2 separate regions of the Homo sapiens genome follow, and region 1 is linked to region 2. Evidence: fine-mapped expression QTL. A gene starts in region 2. The other region holds a variant in brackets. All regions are shown on one strand. Distances are between the middles of the regions.

Region 1 (2,917 bases), 59 kb before region 2:
TCCCGTCTCTGAGCTCGCTGAGTTCTTTGGGTTTGTCAGTTGAAGGCTCTGACTCACCTGATGATGACTGGGCTCTCCCCAGGCTCACAACCCGGGGCCACCTCACCTCCACCCTGCCGTGGCCTTGGCCTTGGCCTTGGGCCCTACAGCACACTCTGTCCTCCACTCACCTTGAATTTGGCTGGAGGCATGGATGCCTGTGCCAGGGCAAACTGGCAAAGGGAAACAGAAAAGAGAATTGATCATTTTGCAACTACAACAGAAATTTAAACAGACAGAAAGCACCTTGCTGATTGCTGTCCTTCAGAGCATTGTCCCTGGGGAGCATTGCTGGACCCGATGCTGCTGTGGCTGCCCCACCACTGCTGGAGTCATCCCTGGCAGTTTTGAGCAAGCTGTCATTCAGCAGCTCCCAAGCCCAGCTGCACACTGGAGTCATTTAGGGACCCTTTAAAAATATGACACTGCACCCCCACCACAGACTCAGAGAGGTGGGCCTCTGGTATGGGTATTTTGTAAAAGCCCCTGGGGGAGTCTAACATCCTCTAGGCTTGAGGACCTCCCTCCTGTGCCCTGTCTGGCCTGTGTTCATAGATGCTCCATAGGCGCCACTGGGCCATCATCCACCTCTCATGAACAGATGCTCAAGGCCCTGTTTCCCCGGCTTATGAGAGTGCTTCATTAAAGCAAATGTCTAAATATTCATGCTCCAGGCTTTCTCTAAGCAGCCAGTGGGTACAGTCCACCTTCCTGGAGTTTCTTTCCAGAAACTCAACTTAAAAAAAAGCCCTTTAAAATGAATTGACAGCCCTTTGTTTCTAGATAACCCCTGAGTTGAGTTCGTGGTCCAGCAAAACAGAACTCTCCATTCACTCTTCCTCCACCCCAGCCCCTCCCCAACCGATCTCACTTCCCACTCCTGCTTCTATTCTCAGGAAGCGCCATCCCCGCTAATTGCTCTGACCCAAATCATCCTTTAGAATCCTTGATTCCTTCTGTTCCCTCACCTTCCACATCAGGAAGTCCTCCCTCCTCTTCCTCCAAAGCCTGTCTGCCCTCTGTCCACATCCCAGGTCTCCCGGGGTGGACTCCTGACTTCTACTCCTGACCAAAATCCAGGCACAGCCACAATCCAGGCACAGCCACAATCCAGGCACAGCTCTTAATTTTTTAACTTTTTATTTGAAATAATTTCAGACACACAAAAAGTTTGCAAAATAGTAGAGACACTTTTCTTATAGCCTTTACCCAGAGTA[C/A]CCAGATGTTACCATTTTGCCACATTTTGCTTTATCCTTCTCCCTTCCAACTGCCACCATTCCATCCTGCCCCACATGCATGTAAGCACATCACATTTTTCTCCTGAACATTGAGAGTAAATTACCTGTTGCCCCTTGCCCCTAAATACTTCAGTGTGTATCTCCTAAAAATGAGGACATCCTCTTACCTAACCAGAGTTCAGCGATCAAAATCAGGAAATTAACATGGATGCAATATTAACATCTACATATTTTCTTCAGATTTGACCACCTGCCCCAATCATGTCTTTTATAGCAATGGAAAATTCCAGATAGTATATTGCATTCAGTCACCATGTCCCCTTGGTCTCCTGTAATCTGGAGTTTCTATCAGATTATGTTACTCCTGTGACAAGAGCCCTCCACTGTCCTGGGAATGTAGGGCCAGCCCTGTCTCGGGCATGCCCCCTCACCCTGCAGCCTGGCCTAATTCTCAAGCCCATCTCCCCCATCCATGGCTCCCTCCCTCGCATGTCCCCGATGCAGCCCCTTCCTCCCCATTTGCTGTGCTGGGCTTCACATCTCTAGTGGCTCTGTCTGGACCGCTCTTCTCTGGTTGCTCCTGATCACCCTGAGGTCTCAGAGGAGAGGCCTTCCTTTCTCTGGTCCCACCACCGCACCTGGTCCACTACACTCTGCCTTGTTTATTTCCTGCACCTTTCACTGTCTTGGTCACTGGTTCCCCTACGTGTTATCTTATGCCTCCCACCTCCACTGAACATCAGCTCCATGAGCGCAGGGGGTTGTCCTTGCTAATTCCCAAGCATGTAGAATGAATTGTGCCTGATACATAATAGAGGCTCAACGAACCTTTGCTGAGCGAGTAAATACATGAATGAATGCAAGTCTTTTAGACTATTTGGGTTAGAGACAATAGAATCCTTTCACCAACACTTAAATGAGAAAGAGATTCTATAGGCACTGATTGAAGACAAAATGCAATTTTTTTTCCCCTCAGAAAGCCTTTCAAAGTGTCATCCAATGCCTGAGGAAGCTTTGACTCACCACTTTCCCCTTTCAAGGGTCCAGAATTCAAAGTAATAGAATTGATTTACTTTTTAAGAAAATATACCAGATCTTCTACAGTCAAGGATTTTTGTAGCAGGCGTCTTGGCAGAAATAAGTGACACATATTGGCCTGAAGGTCATGGTCGAGTAACACTGGGAAGAGTTTCTGACTGAGTTAGAGACTCATCGGAACCTACTCCATGAGCGGAGATAGCCCCCTTTCCTGTTAGAAGGGCCTTGAGGGACCTCTGAGCACCCTTGGGGGACCTACCCAGGATGAGGTTAGAGGCCTGGATCCCCAGTCTGTCCCCGAAGGGGTTCCAGGCTCAGGCCCCCAGAGCAAGGGTGAGCCAGGAGGTCAGGGGCGAGCCTGGGCAGGCAGCACCGAGGTGCTCTCACTTAAAATTGGGAAGGTTCTGCATCTTCACTGGGGAGGCAAATCAATCCTTGGCTGTAGAAATGTGTAAAGTTGGCTGTGCAAGCTGTGTGCTTCCCTGTGTGTACTTGTACCTCAATACTTTTTTTATAAAGGAAAAAAGAAAATCGGAGGAGCTCCAGCTCTTCAAAAGCAAACAGCAGCTGCTGGGGATGATGGCCTGCCTGAGTCCCTGTGG
Region 2 (2,917 bases):
CTTTTTTGTTTTAGACATTCCCAACTCTGACACCTAGCCCAGTGGAAACCCCGGCTTTTCCCGTAAGGGGGTGGGCGTGGACGTGGGGTCGGTCGGCTTTGCCCCCAAATTAGCCGGGAACTCGAGACCAAGGTCTGAGAATTTATTAAAGCTCCCTCCTTGGTCCTTCCTCCCTGGTCCTTCCCTCCGCTCCTCTCTCTTTGCCTCCCCTGTCGTCCCCTCCTCTCCACCTCTGGAGTGCCTGGGGTGCCACCCTCTGGCGCGCAGAGGGAACTGAACAGGAAGAGCCTCCGAACAGGTGAACCACTAGAGACCTGCTCCAGTCTCCCCAGACTAGCGCCTTCGGTCCTGACCTGGCTGGCAGTAGGCCATGATTCTTGAAATTCAGTACAGTGAGACGGCGGACCAATGCTAGGCATCTTCCGCCTGGCCGCTGCGGAAAATCCATCTGCTGTTAACGCCAATGCCAAGGAACGCCGCGGATGCCCTTGGTTCTGGCAGCCACTGGAAGGCAGGGATAAGACATTCCCGGCGGATAGGAGAGGGAGATGCAAGTCAGTGTTTTGGAAGCTGCACTGGTGTATTTTTATTTCATTTTCCATGGCTTAGGTGCCAATGTATTTTTTTTTTTATTTTCAGGAAAAAAAGCTACCAAACTAATAAGATTGTTTTTCTAAAACTACACAAGGGCAGAGGGACGGCTTTCTTTTCTTCTGATCTACACATTGTACTCCATTTTTCAAGTTTTCGGCCAGTGGTAAATTTGTTTCACTCCCCAAATCACAGTAAATCCCCAGGTTTTCATGGTTTATTTTTACAGGTTTAACAACATCACTTACACCAGCCCCACCTTTGCCCTCACATGGTGGTCATGTCTGAGCCGCACTGATGTTGTTAAGATCACAGTTTCCCTTGCAGCAGTCCAAAACGCCATTTCAGGTTTTCAGAGCATTTCAGGTTTTCAGTGAGGTCCCAAGGAGGAAGGTGGAGGAAATAGGGGATGGGGAATATAGAGGGTAGGGATATGGTGGGGGAAGAGCATGAATTGTAATAGTCCAACAATACATCTTCCCTGAAAATGTGCTCTATTACACCAGTAATTTCTAATGAAAAACTTCATTCTTCACACACTGTGGTTAAGCATCATCAAATCAGTACTGAAAAGACCTTTGATCGTATTTGCAAGATGCACTAAAATGAACTTTCACTGACCAAGATTTCAAAGTTTGTAATTAATACTCTTGAAAAATCCCTGACTAATCTGTCAACTCTCAACGTCTTTAACCACACAGTTCAAAACCATGAGGTGGCGTACACAGCCCCTAAACTTTCCACATATTGTCATATGATTATTCAAGATAATTTTCCCTTTGGGTTTGCATTATGAAACTCAACCAACTTTGGTAATATATTCACCGGTGGGGGAAATACAATGATTTGAATGAGTGTAAAATAGAGTATGGGTTTTATCTATCTGGTGCCAAAAACAGAACGTAGGGCCAGAGGTAGGAATTAAATGAGGCAGATTTCAATATAAAGAAAATTTTAAAAAAATAAACTTGAAAAGGAACCCAATGGCTGGTGAAAAGGAGGGTTTCTTCACTCATAAGTGTTCAGGGAGTGTGCCCTCCAATGGCACCCTAGAGAAGAAAAATGAACTGGCTGTGAAGAGGAGTTGACTGCCAAGATTCTTTCTAAATCTAAAGTTCTGGAGCAGTTTAAAATACTCCTTCTAGCCTTCTCCATTTTTCCTAGACTGCAACAGAAACCTCAGAATGATTATTGTCTCAATGGACGGATCCGGCATCATTCCTGTTAGTTATTGTTTGACTCTTAGTTATTGTTTGACTCTGATTCCAGGTACCCACCCACCTCTGTTCCTGGCTGTCAAGATGATAATAATAATTACCATCCTTTCACTCACAAATGGTATGCTGGATTCCTACCCAGTGTTAGGTACAATTCTGGACTTTAGAGGTTTAATGGTACACACTACAGGAACAGGTCTCACATCGTGAAGCTGTTGAGGCGTTTTAAAAATTTTTAAAAATATATGATCTCTTTAATACAAAATAAACTTGAGAAGATAATATAGCATTGATTATTACACAGTTACAGTATTTTTATTACCAGGGGGTATTTTTATATGGGGCTAAGCAGTGTATTATTAAAGTTTAGTTTTGTTACCAAACATGCTTCCATACTATAAGCATAAAAATTGCACATAGTGTAGGGGTCCTCTGCCCTGCCAGTTTATGACCCATTTATGCTGGACAAAGTACTTCAAGCTTACCCATATCTTTACAAAGAAAATTCACCAGCTTTTGAAAAAGACAAATGAATAGGTATACTTTAAAAATAAAAAAGTATGAACAAGTTATAGGTTCTTGCAAAAACATTTTTTAAGGTCAAACCTAAACATGGGCACTATTGCTCTACAAGCAATAAGAATGTACAGTCCACTGGAAATAGCCAGTGAGTGGAATTTGAGAATATCTGCTTTAAAGAAAGCAGAAGCACTCAGCCCTCAAGGGATGACACTGTGTTTGACTATATTAATATGTATATTTGGGAGTGAGGGAAAAATTGTAACATCAGTTTGGCTTCCCACCTCCATCTAGTTGCAGTACTCAATTTATTTTTCTGCTCTTTTTGACTCTCCCTACAGTTTCCTTATTTCAGTTGGGAGAGTAGGATGGCCAAGGATGGGCAGTGACTAAGCTTTGCAGTCCTCTGAACAAACCATATTTTCCCAGCATGGCATGGTGTTAGTCCTATAATAGATGTTCAGGGTGGGAAGTGCCCAGTACACTTGGAGGGACACCCCAGCTATTCCTAGGACTCCATGCAGAAGGTTTTCCTGCCTCTTCCCATATGTCTCACCCCTGTTCTCAGCATAAGATGACCACATGCTGTT

Direction of the effects. Alleles are on the strand shown, and positions count from the first base shown. SD is a standard deviation of normalised expression in the study named.
For the expression in gastroesophageal junction of the gene that starts at base 1,861 in region 2, allele A in region 1 goes with a higher level than allele C (moderate effect, 0.58 SD a copy in GTEx).

The links. PIP is the estimated chance that this variant, and not a neighbour inherited with it, causes the effect.
Region 1: its variant is the best candidate, but not a certain one, in a credible set for the expression of ACOXL-AS1 in gastroesophageal junction (GTEx, PIP 0.66).

Annotation. Positions count from the first base shown.
Region 1 is chr2:111,173,764-111,176,680 of GRCh38, reverse strand. No RefSeq gene overlaps it. Among named protein-coding and RNA genes, the nearest start is that of BCL2L11, 54 kb to the right of the region's middle. The variant C/A (reference allele first, on the strand shown) is at 1,257.
Region 2 is chr2:111,114,532-111,117,448 of GRCh38, reverse strand. ACOXL-AS1 (ACOXL antisense RNA 1) reads left to right here and starts at 1,861. Exons shown (of 4, transcript NR_122074.1): 1 at 1,861-1,929. The region is part of intron 17 of ACOXL (acyl-CoA oxidase like); the gene reads right to left.